Homo sapiens: one gene and its partners. The protein of the gene in region 3 binds, or shares a complex with, the protein of the main gene of each other region. Each region holds a gene or a part of one and is shown on either strand. Other genes may lie near its edges. The genes, in order: MED13, MED12 and CDK8. A codon is read from its position in the direction of its gene.

What was found.
Region 1: the proteins of CDK8 (region 3) and MED13 are in contact, whole or in part, in a cryo-EM structure (PDB 8TQC), measured with the Homo sapiens proteins. Residues at the interface, in NP_001251.1 of Homo sapiens: Leu9 (codon at 2,560), Glu12 (codon at 2,551), Arg13 (codon at 2,548), Arg71, Lys74, His75, Pro76, Leu81, Gln82, Lys83, Val84, Tyr133, Asp137, His140, Tyr141, Met330, Gln331, Phe335, Leu336, Leu340, Pro341, Thr342, Ser343, Asp344; in NP_005112.2 of Homo sapiens: Thr1616, Met1617, Asp1618, Arg1619, Lys1621, Val1622, Gly1623, Ile1624, Pro1625, Thr1626, Asp1627, Gly1628, Asp1629, Ser1630, Val1732, Lys1733, Thr1734, Leu1735, Thr1736, Gly1737, Phe1738.
Region 2: the proteins of CDK8 (region 3) and MED12 are in contact, whole or in part, in a cryo-EM structure (PDB 8TQ2), measured with the Homo sapiens proteins. Residues at the interface, in NP_001251.1 of Homo sapiens: His143, Ala144, Trp146, Phe180, Asn181, Ser182, Pro183, Pro186, Ala208, Arg209, His210, Thr212, Lys213, Met273, Pro274, Pro320; in NP_005111.2 of Homo sapiens: Pro26, Gln27, Gln31, Glu33, Asp34, Leu36, Asn40, Val41, Lys42, Gln43, Gly44, Phe45, Asn47.

The regions. Positions count from the first base shown.
Region 1 is NC_000017.11:61,943,202-61,950,308, forward strand, and holds part of MED13 (mediator of RNA polymerase II transcription subunit 13), read right to left. Parts: intron 3,817-7,107; coding exon 3,716-3,816; intron 3,400-3,715; coding exon 3,267-3,399; 3' UTR 1-3,266. UniProt on the Homo sapiens protein: Component of the Mediator complex, a coactivator involved in the regulated transcription of nearly all RNA polymerase II-dependent genes.
Region 2 is NC_000023.11:71,121,585-71,128,691, forward strand, and holds part of MED12 (mediator of RNA polymerase II transcription subunit 12), read left to right. Parts: coding exon 1-232; intron 233-615; coding exon 616-762; intron 763-923; coding exon 924-1,023; intron 1,024-1,153; coding exon 1,154-1,290; intron 1,291-1,510; coding exon 1,511-1,642; intron 1,643-2,009; coding exon 2,010-2,136; intron 2,137-2,574; coding exon 2,575-2,804; intron 2,805-3,179; coding exon 3,180-3,260; intron 3,261-3,391; coding exon 3,392-3,562; intron 3,563-3,766; coding exon 3,767-3,911; intron 3,912-4,078; coding exon 4,079-4,129; intron 4,130-4,451; coding exon 4,452-4,570; intron 4,571-4,756; coding exon 4,757-4,900; intron 4,901-5,384; coding exon 5,385-5,548; intron 5,549-5,751; coding exon 5,752-5,883; intron 5,884-6,308; coding exon 6,309-6,536; intron 6,537-6,711; coding exon 6,712-6,856; intron 6,857-7,013; coding exon 7,014-7,107. UniProt on the Homo sapiens protein: Component of the Mediator complex, a coactivator involved in the regulated transcription of nearly all RNA polymerase II-dependent genes.
Region 3 is NC_000013.11:26,249,617-26,257,225, reverse strand, and holds the start of CDK8 (cyclin-dependent kinase 8), read right to left. Parts: upstream 3,098-7,609; 5' UTR 2,585-3,097; coding exon 2,457-2,584; intron 1-2,456.

The DNA of each region.
Region 1 (7,107 bases), on a different chromosome or scaffold from region 3:
AATCTTAAGAGGAAACCCAGACCAAAATATCACTCATGCAACATTAAGTGTATTAACTGATTGATATGCAATGCCATAGTGGATGAATAGCAAATTATATGATGCAATAGCATTTAAAAACTTTTTAATCTATTCAATTTGAACATTTTAAATAATGCAACATAGTATTCTGATATTACAGTATTAACATAGTGCTTGATTAAAGATCTGCAAATCTTTGTAGTAACACATTAAGTTAAAAAATTACCTCAGAAGGTAAATATGAAGACGAAAGGAGAATATTTTAATACAGTAATCTGTGCCATACTGACAATTGAGTACGAATACAGCTGAGGATAGTTGACTAAGTAGTAAGAGCTTAATTTTAGTGGTTTAAGAAAAGTTTAGAAATATTTAAAAATTACAGCTACTTTAAAATTTAAGGATTACATATAAGTACACTTGGTGGCCTTCTGGCCAAACAATAAGGTGTACAGAAATTTATTCATACAGTGTTAATTCACAGTCCTGATAACTCAATGGCTTGCATAAGAAAGGTATGGCTAGATGTTTCTCACTGGCTGGAAGCAGACATTATATAACTAATCTTTTTAAATGACAAAATACTGAACTTCCACCCTGCTTAATAATCATGGATACCTGCACAAAAAAAAAGATGTTAGCACTGTAACAAAGAAGTCAAGGTGTTGGTAATCCACTGCTATAAAGTATAATATTTTGCTTACCTATTTAAACAAAACTACCCATATTTGTCTGTGACAGTACATTAGTAAGTCAAATCCATCATCCTGCACAAGGCTTAATTTCTCAAATAAGTCTACTGAGCTTTTCTAATGGTTATTTAATAACTTTCCATTGAGTTTGAATGGATATATGAAGGGAAGAAAAAAAATCTTATCAATAAATCCTGTATATTTGGGAACTATTCCCTGATTCCCAAATAAAAAATAATTGTGTACTGGGTTCCCTCCTTATGGCTCCATATTAAATAACCTGTCAGGGAATAATTTTAAATCTACTTTCAAATTGAGGTGTGGTTATCATAGGTTAGTGATTTTAAACAACTGAGAATATAACTTTTATTTTGTAAAGTCACTATTAAGTGTATAAAAAGGATACTCTTTTTATGGAAATTCCAAATAAGCACATTTTCCTTCAAATCTCAGACAAGTTTTTTTTTTTTTTTTAAAGAAAGTACAGAACAAAACATACCAACATAATGTGTGGTGTATTAGCATAATTTAAAAACAAATGCAGAGAGGTGATCTTTAAATTTAATATCAAAATATGCTGACCATTAGAACTGCATTATAATTTTGAAGAAATGATTGACAACCTTTGTCACCAATTGTGTTTGCTTCATAGAAAAAACAAGACTTGCTAATGTTTTCATATACACAATCTGAAGAAGTTATGTTGTTCATAAGAAAGTGATATTTAATTCTAAGCACAGAGTATTCACAAAAACAAGTTTCAGTAAAAAAAAAAACTAAAACAAACACTGAAGTAGAGTTTTGTAAATACAACTGATTTTGTCCTTGTAGATAATTAGTGAACGTACAAATAGAAATTTTGCTAGACTGCTTCCAAGAAAGCTAGGTAGACTCGGCGACTGTGAATTCAAGTCAGCAATGCAGGTAGGAGGCGAACTTGGGCTCTTTTGTGAGCAGCACTGTAGAAAGGATTTTTCAAGGGGGTACAGCCTGCATAAAAGCAGTTATCTTGGCATGTGCAAACAAGAAGGGGGAAAGTTGTATTGAAGGAGGGGTGAATTAAAGTCCCTAAAATTCAAGTCCCTTCTTTAGGGAGGTGAGAACCTCCTTGGCATATGCCCTACCTTAATCTGAGCTGTGTTATAGAAAAGTACAGACTCTGGTGTTTGGGACTGACATCTCCAAACCAAGAAAATTAAATAAATAAAAAAGGCAAGGGAAGTTTAAAAAATGGTTCTTTCACTAGTGGAATAGAGTCTGAATACCAGAATTCACTGAGAATCTATTTACACCACAGTTTGATTGCGCGCACACACACACACCCATACATATGCATACTCTCACATACATTCCCAATCTTTAATTTAAAAAAAAAAGTCAAACAATCAAGAATGACTGCTTGAAAAATAATTTGTAAAATGCCTAGAGCTGGGCTAAATTTCAACCTTATAGCAGATCCTGAAAATAAATTTCATAATAATATTTCCATGCCTAAATATGCCACTGTTAAAACTGAAAAAAATTTAAGCATGTAACATTAAACACTAAAATTAGTTTAAGCATTCAGTAGCAAATGGTTTTTCTTGTAAAACTAAGTTTCTTTCACCGGAAATGGCCTGAAATATTAGTCATAGCCCTAAACCATAGTACAAAATATAACTGAAGAATTCTCATTTTATTCTAAGTTAAACCACCTAACAATACCACTTGTATATTGCCATCATGTTATTCTGTAAAGATGTGATATATAAAATGCTGTAAGACCTGGTACCTTTTCAATTTATAAACACAGTGAACTTCATTACTGTACATGTACTCTGCAACTACAGCTTAGCTGTAAATCCTCCACACACAATGGTATGGACATTATTCCCCCTCTATCCCCGTTAAACTGTACATCGAGACAATACAAATTTACTGTCCCACCCACCCCCTTACAAAAAAATAATACTCTAAAAGCAACCCTACTGCAACTTTTTAATTAAGACGATTACATATATTTTAGACCAATTGCTTTAAAGCAAGAAGGCAGTATAAACCTTCTAGGAAAATTTTTATAAAAGAGGTTAAGAAATATAAGACAATTTATACATTTAAAAACTTACAATAAATAAGAGAAGAGATGCAGGCATTTTTGAATACTAGATACTATAATCCATACAAGAACATCTTCATGTTCTGAAGCCATATGTTGAAATTCATTGTTCCTCATGTTTCCTCTCCATGCTTTTAATATTCATTTAACATGACTGGGTACTATGGCTCATTACTTTTCACAAATACTGTGACTGGAAAAAAAAAAGGTTAATTTTGCTACGAAAATGTTATAATACGTTTTGTATGATCAGTCATCATCCTAAAGAGTTCAATAGAGTCAATGAAAAATAGCAGGGTTATAGCCCCTCCCCCCAAGTCAAAACAATATTTGTTGAAGTAATAAGAATTAGACCCCATCACAAATGACCTTCACTGAGAAGATAATTGTAACTTAATCCTGCAGCGAAACATCCATTTTTCCTTGTTCTTTTCTTGCACAGTTCCATCAAATGAAGATCACAGCATATTCATAATAAAGTTATATAACTGATTCAGCACCACAAAATGAATTGGGAGACATGAGCGTCTGTCCTGGGTTGCAGGGTCACAGGTTAGCCAGGAGAGTGCATTGTACTGTTCCAAAACAAACCTGAAAAGCAAATAAACTGCATAAGTCATTTATTTATTTCCAACCTAGATTTTGGAAGCAGTTTTCAATTATGGCATTTAAGACTCAAAGTCACCTTAAAAAAGAGTGTAACAGAGAGTCCTTGAGGGGAAAGAAGCAATTTCCATAAAAATTATTCTCAAAAGTAGATTACTCAAGTTAGAATAGCAGTGTTTATCTAGAGATCCACTGGTACACAACTGTAAATTCTTGCCAAAAATGAGAAAAATATATAAGAATCAACATTATATTCTTTTAAAGTTGCAGTGACAAACTGTTAATGGTAAAAGAGTTGTACCTGAGGACATCTGAAGTCTGATTTGAGTCAAGTGGGTGGGAGTGTTTACTGTGAAGCAGCTCGTCAGATTGCACTGAAGGCACGTGGAGGTGCAAAGAGGCCTAAGAAGGTAACAGGTAATCAATCAGTCAGCCAAACAGAAAATAATCTGCTATTTAGTTTTACCTTATTCTCCCAATATATCTTATAAAATGATGAAATACATTTTAGTCCTATGTTATGAATGAAAGCCACTATAAAAATGCTTGTTCTCTTTTAACTAATTCATTATAGAAATGTTTTTTTTTTTTTTTTTAAGTAGGGGCAGGTTCTTGTTCTGTTGACCAGGCTGGTCTTGAACTCCTGGCCTCAAACAATCCTCCTGCCTTGGCCTCCCAAAGTGCTGGGATTACACGCATGAGCCACTGTGCCTAGCCAGAAGTGATTTTTAAGTGCAAAACTTACTTTGAATCTATTTCCTTTTCTTTAGCTTTATTGTTTTTGAGACCATACAATAATCCTTAGAAAAAGAATTTCTAATTACCTGCTAAGTCTAATTTGCCTAGATGTGCAAAGTAAATGTTTAAGGAGGCACTAAATTGAGTAGTTAAACCTGAGTAGTCTGTCCTTAAGATATATGACACCCTTTATGACTACGCAGACATACCTACGTCTAGCACTGAAAAAAGTAACAGGAATAAGCATAAGCAAATAGTTTGGTTACAGCACAATAAACCTTAAACAAGCTATCTTCGGTTGAACTGAGAACACTCTAAGTAATACAGTGCACAGATGCCTGCTTTGCCCACTCAATTTCATAATAGAGGGTAGGTAAAAACTGGCACACTCATTTAGATATGGCAATGAATAGTGGGAGAAAGGAATAAACTACTCCACACTCCAATTAAATGAGTCATTTTTTTTATAAGTCAATATAGTATTAAAAAGCTATGATAAAACAATGGTGATGTTCACTGCAGTAACTCTTGGTAGATCTCATTCTGTACACTGTATAAGGTACTATTTTATATTTAGGTGTTCTCTCCTCTGCAACTGCAATACATATAGAAACTCATGTAGTACATTTAGGAATATAACCAAAAATAGCTATGTTTCAACTGTCTACAAACTCTTGATTTATGGAGTTATAAGCAAGTCTCACACTGCAAATCACTACAAATTTTTAAAATGTAATTAGTACCAGTACTCTATTCCTATGATAAAAAGGGATCTAGCTAACAACCCATTATATTTCCAAGCAAAGAGAAACAAACCAGGTGGCTTTACTGCCTACAGTATAAAACTAAAATAAGATATATGAAAAAAAAAAGTGAACAAAAAGTATGGTAAATTATGCCTTAGGTGATAGTTCATAACCAGAAGTCCTAATCTTGTTACAATGTATCTAAGGGTGAATGCCCGCTTTATACTATCCTTTCTGCAAATAAATACTGAGTAGGAAAAGCTCTAGATAGTCCCTTGGACTTTTTGTAAAGTTGTGTTTCCTGAACACATCCCCTGAAACACTAAGATAATAAACTATTAACAGGTGTTAAATAATCCTTTCCTTGTGTATTAATAAGTTTGGGAAATGCTAGGTAAACTATCTTATTTACCTCTGTTTTTCAGACTTTAGTGTGCATACATGTATTATGACTAGAAAAGAGGACAGATAGCATGTGTAGCACCCTCCCAAAGGACCAAAGAATCCTTTGTTTTGTGGAGACACCAAAGACTACTAGTATATAGAAAATCCCTGACCTCAGGTGATCTGCCTGCCTCAGCCTCCCAAAGTGCTGGGTTTACAGGTGTGAGCCACTGCACCCGGCAGCAAGTATTTAAATTAGCATGACTTGTGGATTAAAAACAGTCAACTTCCGGTGGTTTTACATAAGAATAAGTGAGTCACGGCCGGGCGCGGTGGCTCACGCCTGTAATCCCAGCACTTTGGGAGGCCGAGGCGGGCGGATCACGAGGTCAGGAGATCGAGACCATCCCGGCTAAAACGGTGAAACCCCATCTCTACTAAAAAAATACAAAAAATTAGCCGGGCGTAGTGGCGGGCGCCTGTAGTCCCAGCTACTTGGGAGGCTGAGGCAGGAGAATGGCGTGAACCCGGGAGGCGGAGCTTGCAGTGAGCCGAGATCCCGCCACTGCACTCCAGCCTGGGCGACAGAGCGAGACTCCGTCTCAAAAAAAAAAAAAGAATAAGTGAGTCACATCTAAATTTGTTATTCTGGAACAATATTAGCAGCAGTAATATAATTCTGTATAGGGCTTTTATATCTCATTTTGTGACTTATCTCCACTTCATGTTACATTGCTTACTAACAAATTCGGTTTTGTTTTTTTGAGAGAGGGTCTCCTGTCACCTAGCTGGAGTGCAGTGGCATGATCATGGCTCACTGCAGCCTCAACCTCTTGTGCTCATGCGATCCTCCCTCCTGCCCCAGCTTTTCATGTTATTAGGACTATAGGCACATGCCACCATGCCTAATATTAAAAACTTTTTAGAGAGACAAAATTTCACTATGTTGTCCAGGCTGATCACAAACTCCTGGCCTCAAGTGATCCTCCTGCCTCGACCACCCAAAGTGCTGGGATTATAGGGGTGAATCGCTGTGCCCAGCCTGAGTTTGTTGTAATAAATCACGATGAATCTGAGAGTCTCATTACTGTATTTAAAAACCACTCAGTTTTTTTTTAACACAGCAATCTACACACAGCTAGAAAAACTTTTTTAAGTAGTAAATGAAACTAAAAATCAAGTATTACAAAGATTATAAATCTTTTTTTTGTTTGTTTGTTTTGAGATGGAATCTCACTCTGTCACCCAGGCTGGAGTGCAGTGGCGCGATCTCGGCTCACTGCAACCTTTACCTGCCGGGTTCAAGTGATTCTCCTGCCTCAGTCTCCCAAATAGCTAATTTGCACGTGCCACCACGCCTGGCTAATTTTTTTGTAGTTTTAGTAGAAACGGGGTCTCACCATGTTGGCCAGACTGGTCTCAAACTGCTGACTTTGTGATCCACCTGCCTCAGCCTCCCAAAGTGCTGGGATTACAGGCATGAGCCACTGCGCCCAGCCCAAGATTATAAATCTTTTATTCCCCAAAATAATGCAGCATAACAGCAGTGCAGTATGATGTAATTCAAAGAATAACATAATAATCATTAAAAGACCCAGGTTTCAGTCTTGAGTCTATTACCAATTTATGACTTTAAACAGGTGAGTTTTTCTGAACTTAAATATGCTCACCTAGAAAATGAGAAGGTTAGACAGAGGTAATATAAAGTTTCTCTCAGCTCTAAATTTCCATATATGCAGTTGAAACAGATTGAGCATCTCCAATTTGAAAAAATCCAAAAATGGAAACAATTCTGGTCCCAAGCATTTCGAATAAGGGATACTCA
Region 2 (7,107 bases), on a different chromosome or scaffold from region 3:
TGCATACCTGTCCCGCCGGCTTGCCTACTTCTGTACACGGAGACTGGCCCTGCAGCTGGATGGTGTGAGCAGTCACTCATCTCATGTTATATCTGCTCAGTCAACAAGCACGCTACCCACCACCCCTGCTCCTCAGCCCCCAACTAGCAGCACACCCTCGACTCCCTTTAGTGACCTGCTTATGTGCCCTCAGCACCGGCCCCTGGTTTTTGGCCTCAGCTGTATCCTACAGGTAGGTACTAGGCGGGCCCAAGGAAGCATTGAGAGATAGCCTGAGAAGAATCAGGTGCCCATCCCAGAGAATAGGGGTAATTCCAAATTGGATGTGGGAGTAGGTGCTGAGTACTTGCTTGGAGGTTGTTGTTTCTTGGTAATGGGGTGTTAGTCCCCTTTGGGGGTTTTCACCAGCCTCTCTCTCCCTTCCAAGGCTAAATAGTGGGCCCAAAGCCTTTTAGGAAAGTGAGTGAAGGGAGGGGATCGGGGTGGAGTGATGCCTGTCTTGGGGACCCAGTCAGAATAACTTTGGATCTGGAATCTACGGGTTGGGTCTTAGAATGGGATTCCAGAGGGGTAACCATGGTGAATGAGTTGGACTTAGCTGTTTCTATCTGGTAGACCATCCTCCTGTGCTGTCCTAGTGCCTTGGTTTGGCACTACTCACTGACTGATAGCAGAATTAAGACCGGCTCACCACTTGACCACTTGCCTATTGCCCCGTCCAACCTGCCCATGCCAGAGGGTAACAGTGCCTTCACTCAGCAGGTATGTCTGACCACTAGCCTGGTACTCTCAGATTGGGCTATGAGGCTAAATTACTCTTTCAGAAGTAGTGATTTGGAGTCTAGTACTATTCTTCTAGCCTGGGGCTCTGGCCTTTTATATGCCTTGGTACATCCTTGTAGCCTTCCTTTTTAACATTGCAGGTCCGTGCAAAGTTGCGGGAGATCGAGCAGCAGATCAAGGAGCGGGGACAGGCAGTTGAAGTTCGCTGGTCTTTCGATAAATGCCAGGAAGCTACTGCAGGTATGTGTCAGAGAACAGATAATAGGAAATATGTTTGAGGAAAGGATGGGGATAGTAAGGACATGTAGATCTAAGAGCCAGAATGCACCGGGCCTCTGGTTCAGTCCCCTTTACCACTTTTCCTCCTTAGGCTTCACCATTGGACGGGTACTTCATACTTTGGAAGTGCTGGACAGCCATAGTTTTGAACGCTCTGACTTCAGCAACTCTCTTGACTCCCTTTGTAACCGAATCTTTGGATTGGGACCTAGCAAGGATGGGCATGAGGTAAGCGAAAAGGGGAATAGAAGGAGCAAAAAACATTGCAAGAGCAATAATATGTCTGAGAGGGAAGTCATGGTGAGGCATTGAAAGCAGAGCATATCTGCAGAAATGATCTTACTGGGCCCAGGATGTTTTATGATAGAGCCCAGTCTTTAGGAAATTGGAACTCATTTCTTTGTCCCCACCCCTACCTTACTCCTCCTTCTCTTCCTTTGTTCTCCAGATCTCCTCAGATGATGATGCTGTGGTGTCATTGCTATGTGAATGGGCTGTCAGCTGCAAGCGTTCTGGTCGGCATCGTGCTATGGTGGTAGCCAAGCTCCTGGAGAAGAGACAGGCGGAGATTGAGGCTGAGGTTAGAGGGCAGAGATAAGAGAACAAGATTGGCCAATGGGAAGGAATTTACTGCGGTTGGAGACCGAGAGATGGAGGTGGTGGAGGGACCAGAGTTGAAGGTGTGAGAACAGAGTAAAGAAGCAAAAGAGAACCTAAAGGCAAAGTTACGGACGTGAGGCGAAAGTAGAGAAGAGTGGATTGTAGTAAGAGTTAGAGATAACATCAAGGCTTCAGTTGGGAGGTGGTAAAGAACATGGAGGTCAGCAGGGGAATGAAAGTGAAAAGCATGGGGTAGAGGTCAAGCAGGTGGTAGTTTAAGGCCTACACATTGAGGAGTGAAGAAGCAGGTAAAAGTCAGTTCTACAATTTGTTCTGTCATCTTGCAGCGTTGTGGAGAATCAGAAGCCGCAGATGAGAAGGGTTCCATCGCCTCTGGCTCCCTTTCTGCTCCCAGTGCTCCCATTTTCCAGGATGTCCTCCTGCAGTTTCTGGATACACAGGCTCCCATGCTGAGTACGGACCCCTACCACTCTCTAGTTACCTCTGCCTAGACTCAGTTACCCACCACTGTCATCAGAAAGCATAATTAACAGCCCTCTGGTCTATATTTCTCTCTTGGGCTCTATGCAGAATGACTTTTAGATGTAGTTCTAGTGATCCTCTTTAACTGGTCATCTTACAGTTAAACAGAGTAGAGAAATACAGAGAAGGATAAAAACAAGAGCTTGTGATTGAAGCATTTTCACTGCATAAATCGCAACAAAGATGTTACATTCCTTTCTGAGATGATGTGTGGGACAGCATGTGGGGTAACCAACCACACTTTGTCCCTCAACAATTTCTGGGATTTCTATTTGATCACTCTTATTATTGCCTTAGGTGTGTCCCTCTCTCTTTTGGCCCACCTTTTTGTGTTCTCCTAACTTATGTTTCCTCATTCCCTTCCTCCAGCGGACCCTCGAAGTGAGAGTGAGCGGGTGGAATTCTTTAACTTAGTACTGCTGTTCTGTGAACTGATTCGACATGATGTTTTCTCCCACAACATGTATACTTGCACTCTCATCTCCCGAGGGGACCTTGCCTTTGGAGCCCCTGGTCCCCGGCCTCCCTCTCCCTTTGATGATCCTGCCGATGACCCAGAGCACAAGGAGGCTGAAGGCAGCAGCAGCAGCAAGCTGGAAGTGAGTGGGCTTTTCCTTGCACTAGATCGTTTCTTCTGACATTTCCATCTTCATGGCTCCCAGGGGCCTCTAAGAGCCTCTTTTGCCTGGGGGAGGGGGGTAGTATTTTTCTTAGCACTTGGTGATTGACCAAGCACTCTCACATCAATTGTTTCATTGGTTCCTCCCATCAGCCTTGTGAGGTACTCTTATCCCCATTTTCAAACTGAAGAAAACAGAGGCCTATACTGGTTAAGTGATTGGATGAGGCTTGACTCCAGATCCTGTGCTTTCCCCAATCTGGTCTTCTCTCTCCACTTCCCCAATGAAGTTTTACAGATGGTGGGAGCCACTCCCTAGGGCTAAAGCAACTTCGCTTATGTTCTATGCCCTCAGGATCCAGGGCTCTCAGAATCTATGGACATTGACCCTAGTTCCAGTGTTCTCTTTGAGGACATGGAGAAGCCTGATTTCTCAGTAAGTTCAATCCTGAGCGTGGCAGAATCTGGATCCTTGGATCTTCCCATTATGCCTGCTTTTGGCATGTTTTTTTGCCCCCTCATCCACTTTCCTTCTTCTCATGTTCTGCTTTCTCACCTTTCTCTCAGTTGTTCTCCCCTACTATGCCCTGTGAGGGGAAGGGCAGTCCATCCCCTGAGAAGCCAGATGTCGAGAAGGAGGTGAAGCCCCCACCCAAGGAGAAGATTGAAGGGACCCTTGGGGTTCTTTACGACCAGCCACGACACGTGCAGTACGCCACCCATTTTCCCATCCCCCAGGTACTATTCCCCAGCACCTTGTGATGATCTGTTTTGAACCCAGATTGCTGTCAAAGGAATTTGCTGAGGGGTTGGAGCTGTTCTGAGGATGTGGGTTGGGAAAGGGAAGGGCTTTAGCATGTGGATGCTGAGGGGTGTGGAGCATGCTTTCAAGAGGAGGGAAGGAGATCGGTGCTGGAGTCTGATGGTGCTGCTGGGATGCAGGAGGAGTCATGCAGCCATGAGTGCAACCAGCGGTTGGTCGTACTGTTTGGGGTGGGAAAGCAGCGAGATGATGCCCGCCATGCCATCAAGAAAATCACCAAGGATATCTTGAAGGTTCTGAACCGCAAAGGGACAGCAGAAACTGGTGGGTTTGAGGCTCCTTAAACAGATCTCCCCCAAAGAATGCCCTAGTCAGTCTTCCCTTCCCCAGTATAGGGAACTCCCCAGTCATGTCCCAATGTCCTGTCTCTTGGAGTCTCCTGAGAGCTCTAGTCCTTTTGAAACTTCCCCCCTCATTCCCCCCCTCTACAGACCAGCTTGCTCCTATTGTGCCTCTGAATCCTGGAGACCTGACATTCTTAGGTACCTCACAGTAAGCCCCATACTGCCCTCCCTCCCTCTCCCTTCCCTCCCTGAACCTAGCACCTCCCTGTACATATTCCTTTAAGGTCCACATAGTCTGTGGTCCTCTAAACCTTTGCTTCACTGTCCCCTTCCCTTCATTCCTCCCCCATCCCTTCCTTGACCCTCCCTTCCCTGTTTCCCTCTTCCTTCCTTCCCTCCCTCCCTCCTTCCATCTCTCCCTCCCTCCCTCCCATAGCCTTCTCTCCATACCCCACTCCCCACCCCTAGTCAACTAGTTATCTTCCCTGTCTTGACTGGTCCCTTTCAACTGTCCCCTCAGGTGGGGAGGATGGGCAGAAGCGGCGACGCAACCGGCCTGAAGCCTTCCCCACTGCTGAAGATATCTTTGCTAAGTTCCAGCACCTTTCACATTATGACCAACACCAGGTCACGGCTCAGGTGTGGGCCTAAGCCCAGCCCCTTTCCCACATTCTGGCCTCCTGTTCTGTTTTCCTTTTCTTCCCTATCTTCTCCCTGCTAGGCAGGCTAAGCCTCCTGGTCTCATCCCCTTCCAGTGTCATCCTTTCCTCCTTCCCTGGTTCTTTCCTCTCTCCACTCCCATCTCACTCCCACTGCCCTTATCAGGTCTCCCGGAATGTTCTGGAGCAGATCACGAGCTTTGCCCTTGGCATGTCATACCACTTGCCTCTGGTGCAGCATGTGCAGTTCATCTTCGACCTCATGGAATATTCACTCAGCATCAGTGGCCTCATCGACTTTGCCATTCAGGTGGGGAAGTTGGGGAGATGAGGGTGGAGGCAGGAGTTCATGCCATATAGCGGCTACGGAGGGTCATAAGGACAGGCGTAGAGGCTCCAGCCAGTTTCCCAAGCTATTTGAAGGGGCAGAAAGACTAGCATGGGGGGAGTGGAACATGAGCTAAGACTGCAGGAATAGAGACTTAAGTGCTCCCTGGGGAGGCCAAGAGGCAGATTAGAGCATTGGGCACAGACCATCCTCCCACTGTGGAGTTCATAGAACTGTATCCTGGACACTGGTTAGAGGTGTTGTTGATAGAATAAACTATCAACAATAAACTATCAATAGAGGTGTTGTTGATAGACTGTGGCATAGGGTAACGAGCCCTTCTATCCTGTGGTGGCTCCAGCAGGAAGGGGCTCAGGCCCAGCCTTGCCAGCGTCCCCACAGGAAGGTGGTTTCTATGTAACACAAGGGGCCTCTTTGCATTTCTCACCCCCGTTTACTCTGCTAGCTGCTGAATGAACTGAGTGTAGTTGAGGCTGAGCTGCTTCTCAAATCCTCGGATCTGGTGGGCAGCTACACTACTAGCCTGTGCCTGTGCATCGTGGCTGTCCTGCGGCACTATCATGCCTGCCTCATCCTCAACCAGGACCAGATGGCACAGGTCTTTGAGGGGTAAGCAGAGCTTCGGAATAACTGAAACAAAGCTCTGGCGAATGCCGGTGGAAGTGGCCTGGGAAGAGCATGCACTTCCTCACACTCTGGGGAAGCACCTGCTGCTCAGGTGGGAAAAGAATGGTATTTCCCAGAGGCTTGAATCTGTTTGGAGGAGCCCGCATACCATCTGCTGACCCTCCCAACCTTGCTTCTTCATGCAGGCTGTGTGGCGTCGTGAAGCATGGGATGAACCGGTCCGATGGCTCCTCTGCAGAGCGCTGTATCCTTGCTTATCTCTATGATCTGTACACCTCCTGTAGCCATTTAAAGAACAAATTTGGGGAGCTCTTCAGGTAAGAGAGGTGGAAGGTAAGGGGTAGCGAGTGGGACCTACTCCCTTCTTCCCATGACCACCCAACTCAGGAGGAGAGGATGGCCCGGGACCCTGCTGCCTGTCTAGGGTCATTTGTGGACTGTGTCCTCCACATACTGTTGTGTTACCAAGAGTGGGCCCTCTTCCTCAGCAGGCTTGCTCCCCGCCTATATCTGTGGGGCCCACCCTCTTCCCCCTTTTCCTCACTGCCTTCAGAGGCCCCAGTTCCTTATTCCCATGTGGTTCCTTTCCTGCCCAGTCTGTTTTGTCCCATCTCCCTTTTCTTGTCTCAAGATCCTTCATCCCTCACTTTCTCCTTTTTTTCTTTTCTCCCCTTTCCTGACCATCCCTCGACCTCAGCAGGCCTTCTTCAACACTACTATCTCCTTTCCTCCATCCCTGCAGCGACTTTTGCTCAAAGGTGAAGAACACCATCTACTGCAACGTGGAGCCATCGGAATCAAATATGCGCTGGGCACCTGAGTTCATGATCGACACTCTAGAGAACCCTGCAGCTCACACCTTCACCTACACGGGGCTAGGCAAGAGTCTTAGTGAGAACCCTGCTAACCGCTACAGCTTTGTCTGCAATGCCCTTATGCACGTCTGTGTGGGGCACCATGATCCCGATAGGTATGGGGTGTACTGAGTGAGGAAGGGCACCATGCCCCCATCTGAGATAGGGAGGGCTGAGGTACCCGGGAGGTACTACAACCTTGATTATTTAGTGGGGCAGAGATGAGAAGTTAATGGGTCTGAGGTTTTGTGGAGCAAGGTTTTTCCTGAGGGCATTTGTACTTTTCCCTAGGGTGAATGACATCGCAATCCTGTGTGCAGAGCTGACCGGCTATTGCAAGTCACTGAGTGCAGAATGGCTAGGAGTGCTTAAGGCCTTGTGCTGCTCCTCTAACAATGGCACTTGTGGTTTCAACGATCTCCTCTGCAATGTTGATGTGAGACTTGGGGTGGGGTTTTGCTAGTGGGGCAGTGACCAGGGCAGGGGGCTGGTTGTGATCCTCTGACCAGGGACAGAGTTCCGTAGAGTGGAGGCACACCGCTTTGAGTGGGCCTCCACACTGAGTCATGGTGTCTGTCTGTTTTTTCCTCCAGGTCAGTGACCTATCTTTTCATGACTCGCTGGCTACTTTTGTTGCCATCCTCATCGCTCGGCAGTGTTTGCTCCTGGAAGATCTGATTCGCTGTG
Region 3 (7,609 bases):
ACTTCCTTTTATAGAAAATCTCAGGTTCTCCTTAAAGGTGTTACTGTCTGAGTTCCTAGAGAACAAATCTCAGCTGCAGAATATATAATGTAATTTGAAAGTAAATCAATACTAGAAACAAATTATTTGATCATCATCTTATTATGAAAGATTAAACAGCCACAAATTTTATTTTACCAGGACTAAAATGCATTAAATTACATTTCACTGACATAAGATCAAAAGAACCTCATAAATACTATGCGATACTTTACCAGAGTGAGGTTACAAAGAGAAGTCAAACCGAAAAAAATCCCTGTAATTTTAAAACTCTCTAAAACTATCTCTAAAAGATAGTAATTTTAAAACTCTCTTGACATTTGATCCATTAAAAATAGAAGTTCATCACATAAAGAGAATCATTAAAGACTGATGGAAAACAAACTCCAAGGATTACAAATAATAAGTTCTTTTTTCCAAAATGCAATGTTACTTTTCAGCTGTCACAGATGACTAAGAATGTCCATACATTATACCTTCAACTATCTTTAAATTCAAAGATATTGAAATTATTCTTTCAAATTATTCTTAACGGCCTAAATTAAAACCTGACCATAGAGATATAAAATGTGCTTAAGTACCCCCTGCCAATACACAGTATTAGTTTTCTAATAAAATGTACAACGTTAAAACAAATATGCATATTTTATTAGCTTAAATTGGTAATTTATGAAAACAGAACCGGCTTCTCTCACACAGATTAAAAATAATGCAAAGGCGCTAGAATTTTATATAACATGTCAGTTTGGTCAAATGTACTGTAATGTCTAATCTCATGGGATTGGGGATTTTATGAATATGCCCAAAATTACATAATACTGGGGGAAGGGGAGATGGTTTAAAGCTTTTGAGAAATATTGTATGGTGAGTTAACAAACATAATTTTAAAAATATATGTCATTACAGAGTAAAACTTCAACAATAAGTCTAATTAGACAACAACAGAGTCAGCAATATCTCCAGACGCTGATTTCTCCAGTGTCACCAGACTATCCATTCCGCTAAAAAGTACTTTTAAATACGTGCGGCGCCCAGAATATCAAGTTTTCAAATCCAAATCCCTACCTTCTGCCGATCTGTTCCACTTTACTGTTGCATAAAAGCACTAAAATACACATTCTAAATTAATTAGAACTCCTATCTTCCTCGTAGAGTCCATTGTAAATACTTTTAGAAAGACATTTCAGTAAATCTAAGAAAAATGTCCAATAAATATACACTTTCCTTTCCAACATCCAGAATACTAAAGTATTTGTAAATATGCGCCCCCCTACCCCACAGTAGGGAACTTCAGCTTTATGAATTTTTTTTTCGTGCTAATGTAGTCTGAACATACTCTCCTACCTAATTGGAAATTTTAAGTGATTAAACATCATACAGCAGGTGACTAAACTGGGATGCTCAAGTAAAGCTACTTCGTTTCTAATAAAATCCAAGGATTATATAATAAGCTTTGACTTTTCAATAATTTTCTATTCTGTCAAAGGCAACAGAGACAACATCCATTTTACAAGAAAACATGGAGTTAATAAAATATATTTTCCCCCCAACTAAGAATTGCCTTCTCTTTTGTCAATATTACAAGACATTCATCTACTGACAAAGAGAAAAAATGAACAATTCACTTGCCTGTTAAGAAACTAAATTGGAAGCATTACCAGTCATAGGTTTAATTAAGTTGTTACTAGGGAAGAATATTTAAAGCAAAGGGATTATTTAAAGTTCACTGCCAGCCGCTAAATTTGGGGGAAACCGCCTGAACGAGATAGTCCCTATGTCACTTGCCTTCTTCCCCACCACCCACCCTGCACCAAACCCCCATTGTTCTATGTAAAAATTCACAGCTAATAATATCTAAATAGCAATTGCAACATTTATGTTGCAGATGATCACTATGGGGAACTCTCTCCAGAACCACATTCACTCGCTGCCTTCCTTTCCTCAAATAAAATACAAATTTGATAAAAAATCGATCACAAACTGGTGGGGGAAAGGATCACAGCCTTCCTTCTAGACCGATGGATGACACTCCAGAGGCGGGTGAGGAAATCCCCAGAAGGTTACCATAATAAATCGACCAAGGAAAAAAAAAAACAAAAAACATTTAACCCGGCGTTTTAGAACGAATTTTTTCATGAATCAGCTTTGAAATCCTTGAAAAGTATACAGCCCACGGTGCAGAGGCTCATCTTGCCTCTTACCACCAGAGCAGAACACAGACGCGGCACGCAGGATTTCTCGTGGGTTTGGATCCCTCGTACACCACTTCCTCCCCAAACCTGGCTGGCGGAGCCAGAGGCCGGCGTCGAGGAAGTCAGAGCCCGGCACCCCGGCGGCCCGCTCTCCCTCCGGGCTACCTGCCTCGGCCTGCGGGAGCGCCGCCCAGCGCGGACACCGGCCCAGACACACACACTCACCCATCTTTCCTCTTGGCTTTGTAGACGTGACCATAAGTGCCTCGGCCAACTTTGCAGCCCTCGTATTCAAACAGGTCCTCGACCCGCTCCCGCTCGCTGCTCAGCTTCACTTTAAAGTCATAGTCCATTGTCACAGCCTCTGAGGCCGGAGAGCTGGGTCGGGGGGCCGGGGGGCAGGGGTGGGGACCGGGGAAGCACGGGCAGCCGCAGCCCCCGGGAACCCGCCCGCTCTACGCCCGCCGGCCGCAGCACCAGCCCGACTGATGCGGCAAGAGCAGGAGGAGGCCCCGCGAAAGCGCCAGGGACATCCAGGGGGACGGCGGGGCAGAGGCCGGCCGGGGGTGGAGGAACGGGGAGGATCCCCCGGCGAAGGAGAGCCGAGGGACGAGGGCTGGGGGTGGGGAGCGGTGTCTCTGCCCTTGTCCCCGCGGGCTCCCTGGGCGCCGGCTCCGCCGCTCTCTCCGGCCGCGCGTTCTGCTCCTGCTGCGGCGGGAGCGGCGGGGCGGCCAGGCGGGCTCTCGTCCTCTCACACGCGCACTCACGCCTCACGCTCTCACACACACGCTCACACTCACTCACTCACTCACTCTCCCATACACTCAAACAGAAGGGCAGAGCCGCACAACAGCCGGTACCTCCTCAAAGAGAGGAGGAGGGAGGGCACTCGCGGAACACGGCCGCGGCTGTCGCAAAAACGTCGCGAAGCCTCGGGCTGCCTCCGGGCCACACTCTAGCCCGCTCCCGCGGTGGCTGGCCGCCCCTGCTGGCGCTGGCACCCTGAGGACCGTGTGGAGGGAGCAGGGGAGCCACTGCCCAAAGCTGCCGCCAAATGCACCACGTGGAACCAGCCCCAGCGGTGGCCGGGCCCCAGACTACAATACCCAGAATGCACAGGCCGCCGCCGCTGCCGCCCCTTCTACGACTCCGCCCCACACGGTGGGAATATGGGAGCGTTGCATGATGGGACTCGTAGTCTAGGGTGAAATTCGTTTCAATCATTTGGGGAAAATTTATTTTTATTTTTACAGCGATCTAACTAGAGTCTGATTTCAGCCACAAACTTGATCAAAGAGGTGCACGTGGGAAGGAGAGTCGTTTGCATTAGAAACACATTTTGTGCCACTCTGAACTCCAGATTTTAAAGGCCACTATCATCGATAAAAGCCGGTATGATATTTGTAAACAGCTCGCGGGCCAGCAGTTGGGGTACTCTTGGTGTTCACAATCTGATAAGGGCTGCACAATGATGTCAACATACTGACATTACAAGCACCAATAAAAGTGAATCAATGACCAGTGTCCAAGCTACTCCTAAACATTGTTACTCTTGTGACAGATGACCATCCAAACCTTTCCTATCCATATACAGGAAGTATTGAGTACAGTACAGCCTTCTGCGATACTACCTATAAGAACACCAGTTTCTAGCTATGATTACAGAAAGGATCTAAATCCATGGGAACTAGTTTGTTAATAATCTTAAGGTAGCAATATGTCCTGCTTCAGGAGTCCTGGTATCTTGATACTAATCTATCATTTTATCTTACCCCCCTTGTCTATTTTTAATTTTTGGTTTTCCAATTGTTACCATTTCCACTAAAGCTCCCCACTTCCCAAAGGGAATATGAACTTTGCAGTTTTAATGTGAACTTTTTAACACTTTTTTTCCCACCTTTCCTGTGATATTTATCAAATTCCTTTCATCTTTTATTTCCTCTACCTTGCTAGATCCTAAGTTGTTATAGGAAGTCATATTTGCATCTTCTGTAAAACCTAGTGTCATGCCTTGATAATGATGCACAGTAAACACTTGTTAAATTAATGAATGAATAAACATGTTTATCTCAAAAAGATCCATATACCAATGATGATGATGATGATATCATCTTGTGAAAAAGCCTCCAAAGGGCTTTCTCTTATATAATTTTCCTTGGAGAAAATTAGTGACTTCACCACTGTGTAAAATTAAATTGTTTTTACCTAGCATACTATATAAGTATTGAGTATTTTACTATACTGGGTTTGAATCCTGCATTGTCATTTACTAATGTGTTCTTGGAGCCTAGAATTTTTTCTTTGCAAAGTGCAAAGCACAAAACAAATGTAGGCTTTCATTAATGGCATATTATTTGTTTCCATTCAGTGATGAAAATTGGGTAACTCTCTAGCAGAACTGCTCATTTGCATCCTTAAAGAATTACATCATTTTCTGAATATGGATTTAAAAGATTCTTCCTTAGACAATGTATTTTGTATTTTTTGAGGGATGTGTCTTTTGTGCACATATTTACTCATGGATCTTGAGAAATCAAACTACCACACTGGAGGAAAAGTTGTGAAGAGGCATGGGACTCAGCTTGCCCCTACACTGTATCGGGTCCCCCTTCCCCACCTCCTGTACCAATTATACACACTATTCTGGAACACTGAAGGTCTCAGACCTTTTTTGTTTGTCTTTTTGTGTTTTTATTTTGAGACAGGGTCTGGCTATGTCACCCAGGCTGGAGTGCAGTGATGCGATCACAGCTTACTACAACCTTGAACTCCTGGGCTCAAACAATTCTCCTCCCCAGCCTCCTGAGTAGCTGGGACTACAGGCATGTGCCACTACACCCAGCTAAGTTTTTTTTTTTTTTTTTTTTTTGAGAGACGGAGTCTCGCTCTGTTGCCCAGGCTGGTCTTTAACTCCTGGGTTCAAGTGATCCTCCTGTCTCAACCTCCCAAAGTGCTGGGATTACAGGCATGAGCCACATACCTGGCCTCAGACTTTTAAAAATGTACTTTTATACACTGTTTTGGCTGGCTTCACTCTGGGTGAAGGTGAACTCTCCCTGAAGGAATTGAGTGTCCTCACTGTCAACTGAGTATCCTGAATGTCAGTCCTGACTGTCAGTCTTTTCCTGGGGGCAGGAAAAGAAGCTAACCTTGGACTAGGGAAGAGCAAGATCTGCTTTTCTCTTTGAAGCCAGGGTGAGAGTTAGAGGCCTAGACACTAGGTTGGAGGAATATGGTGGTAGGAGGTAAGCTGACCCTGTAAAATGGTATCAGGATGGGGAGCTGAGAAAGAGATAGCCACTAAGGGCCCCTTATAGGAGAGCATGGCTAATGCTAGGAACAGCAGCATCTAATATTTAGTTTTAAGTGTCTCCTTTTGTGTGTTCTTAAGGTTCTTAAGGGCTAAGATGCTTCCTCATACCATCTCTGACCTTTACAGTCCTACCCATCCCCCAAGTGCTTAATTTGGTCATGAAGTCTTTCCCAGTTCTTGCAACTAGATATGACCTTTCTTTATCATGAACCTCTACCCCAGCCCTGGCACCATTGCACTTTATTTGTAACTCATTATAGCTACCTTGTATTTTAATCATTTATTTTATGCGATTAAAAAAATCTGCCCCTTAATAAATTTAGTGACTGAGTTCCTGCCTTAATCATCTATATATCCCCTACAGTTCCAAGCACATATTGTTTGCGTAATTATATTTCATTAGAATGTGTTTCATTGGATTGATTTCAATAAATGTTGAAATGGACATTAATAATAATAAAGGTCTCCACCTGTCAGAGGACAGTCATTGTAAAACATTTAGTATCTTGCCTCAGTCTTGCCTCTAAAAAGGGCTTTTTATAGCTGCAAAAGGACTGAGTGCTTCATGATATATTAATGTAAAAGCCCAAGTGGCTCTTCTCATAGTTAATCACTGCAGTCTCTACAACTTTGACTTCCACTTTCTCACTCAGTATTAAGGCATGCTTTCAGTGGAAAGCATGTAACCTCTCATTCTACAGGTGGCACGTTCATCCCGCACATATTAACCATCTACATGTGAGCACAGTGTTCGACACAAGGAAGAACAAGTTAGATTAATCAATCCAAGAGCTTTTTTTTAATATTTCATTTTTTTCACTCTGTCTTTCTGGCCTGATTTTTAAAAAATTTTCAAAGAAACTATAGATGCAAAAAGTATCCTTACTAACTCTGCAAGCATCCAGAATATAATTTAGACCTTAGAAATAACCAGAATATAAAAAATACTTTCAAAAATATCTTACTCTTCTCCCCTTCACCATGTGGGTATCATTTGCCTTTGTGGACTCATTTCCTCCACACAACGGGAAACATGACCACCAATAGTTGCTGAATTTTACGTCAGACAATGGCTTTCATTAGCGAAGAATTGACTGTTTCTCAATTCTGGTTCTAAAAATCCCAAGAAGGGCTCTGGTATGGCTGAGTCAGGCCCGTCCTAGGCCAACTAAGTGTAGCCACAGGGACAGGACCATGCAAGAATATGAGAGCTCCTTTATTAGGGGGCATGAGGGAGATGGGGGTAGGGAGCTCACAGGAGGAAGAATGCCCTAAGTATTATAAAGGAAATAAAACAGGACAATGTGATAGAAAGTGAGACCAGGAGGAAATTCCTTTAGATTGGTAGACGGTCAAGGTTTCTCTAAGGAGACAATGCTTAAGCAGAGACCTGAAGGTTGAGAAACAAAATCTGCTGTGGATGAGGGAGCAGAGTAGTCCAGGCAGATTAAACAGACAGCAAGTGCAAAAGGCAAAGCTGGGAATGAAGGAACAGAAAGATGACAAGAATATAATGAGTAAGAGGTGAAATTGTGTGAGGTGAAGACAGAGAGGTAGACAGGGACCAGATTATATATGGCCTTTTTGACCATAGCAAGGCGTTTGGGTTTTATTTGCAGGCAACCTTTCAGAAGGTTATAAGGAGGGGAGTGACCAGATGTGATTTATGCTTTAAAAAGAATATCCTGGTGCTATGTGAAGAATTAATTGTAGGAGGCAAGATGGATGGATGGATGGATGGTGACATAGATAGATAGATAGATAGCTAGATAGATAGATAGATAAATGAATGGATAGATAGATGAGTGAATTGATGGATAGATAGAAGATAGAGGAATGAATGGATGGATGGACAAATAGGTAGACAGATTAGACAGATAGATAGATAGATAGATAGATAGATAGATAGATAGATAGATAGATGAATAGTTAGATGAATGAATGGATAGATAGATGGGTGAATAGATGAATGAACAGATGGATAATGGATATATAGATGGGTGAATAGATGATAGATGGATGAATGAATGGATGGATAGATAGATGGGTGGATGGATGGATGGAT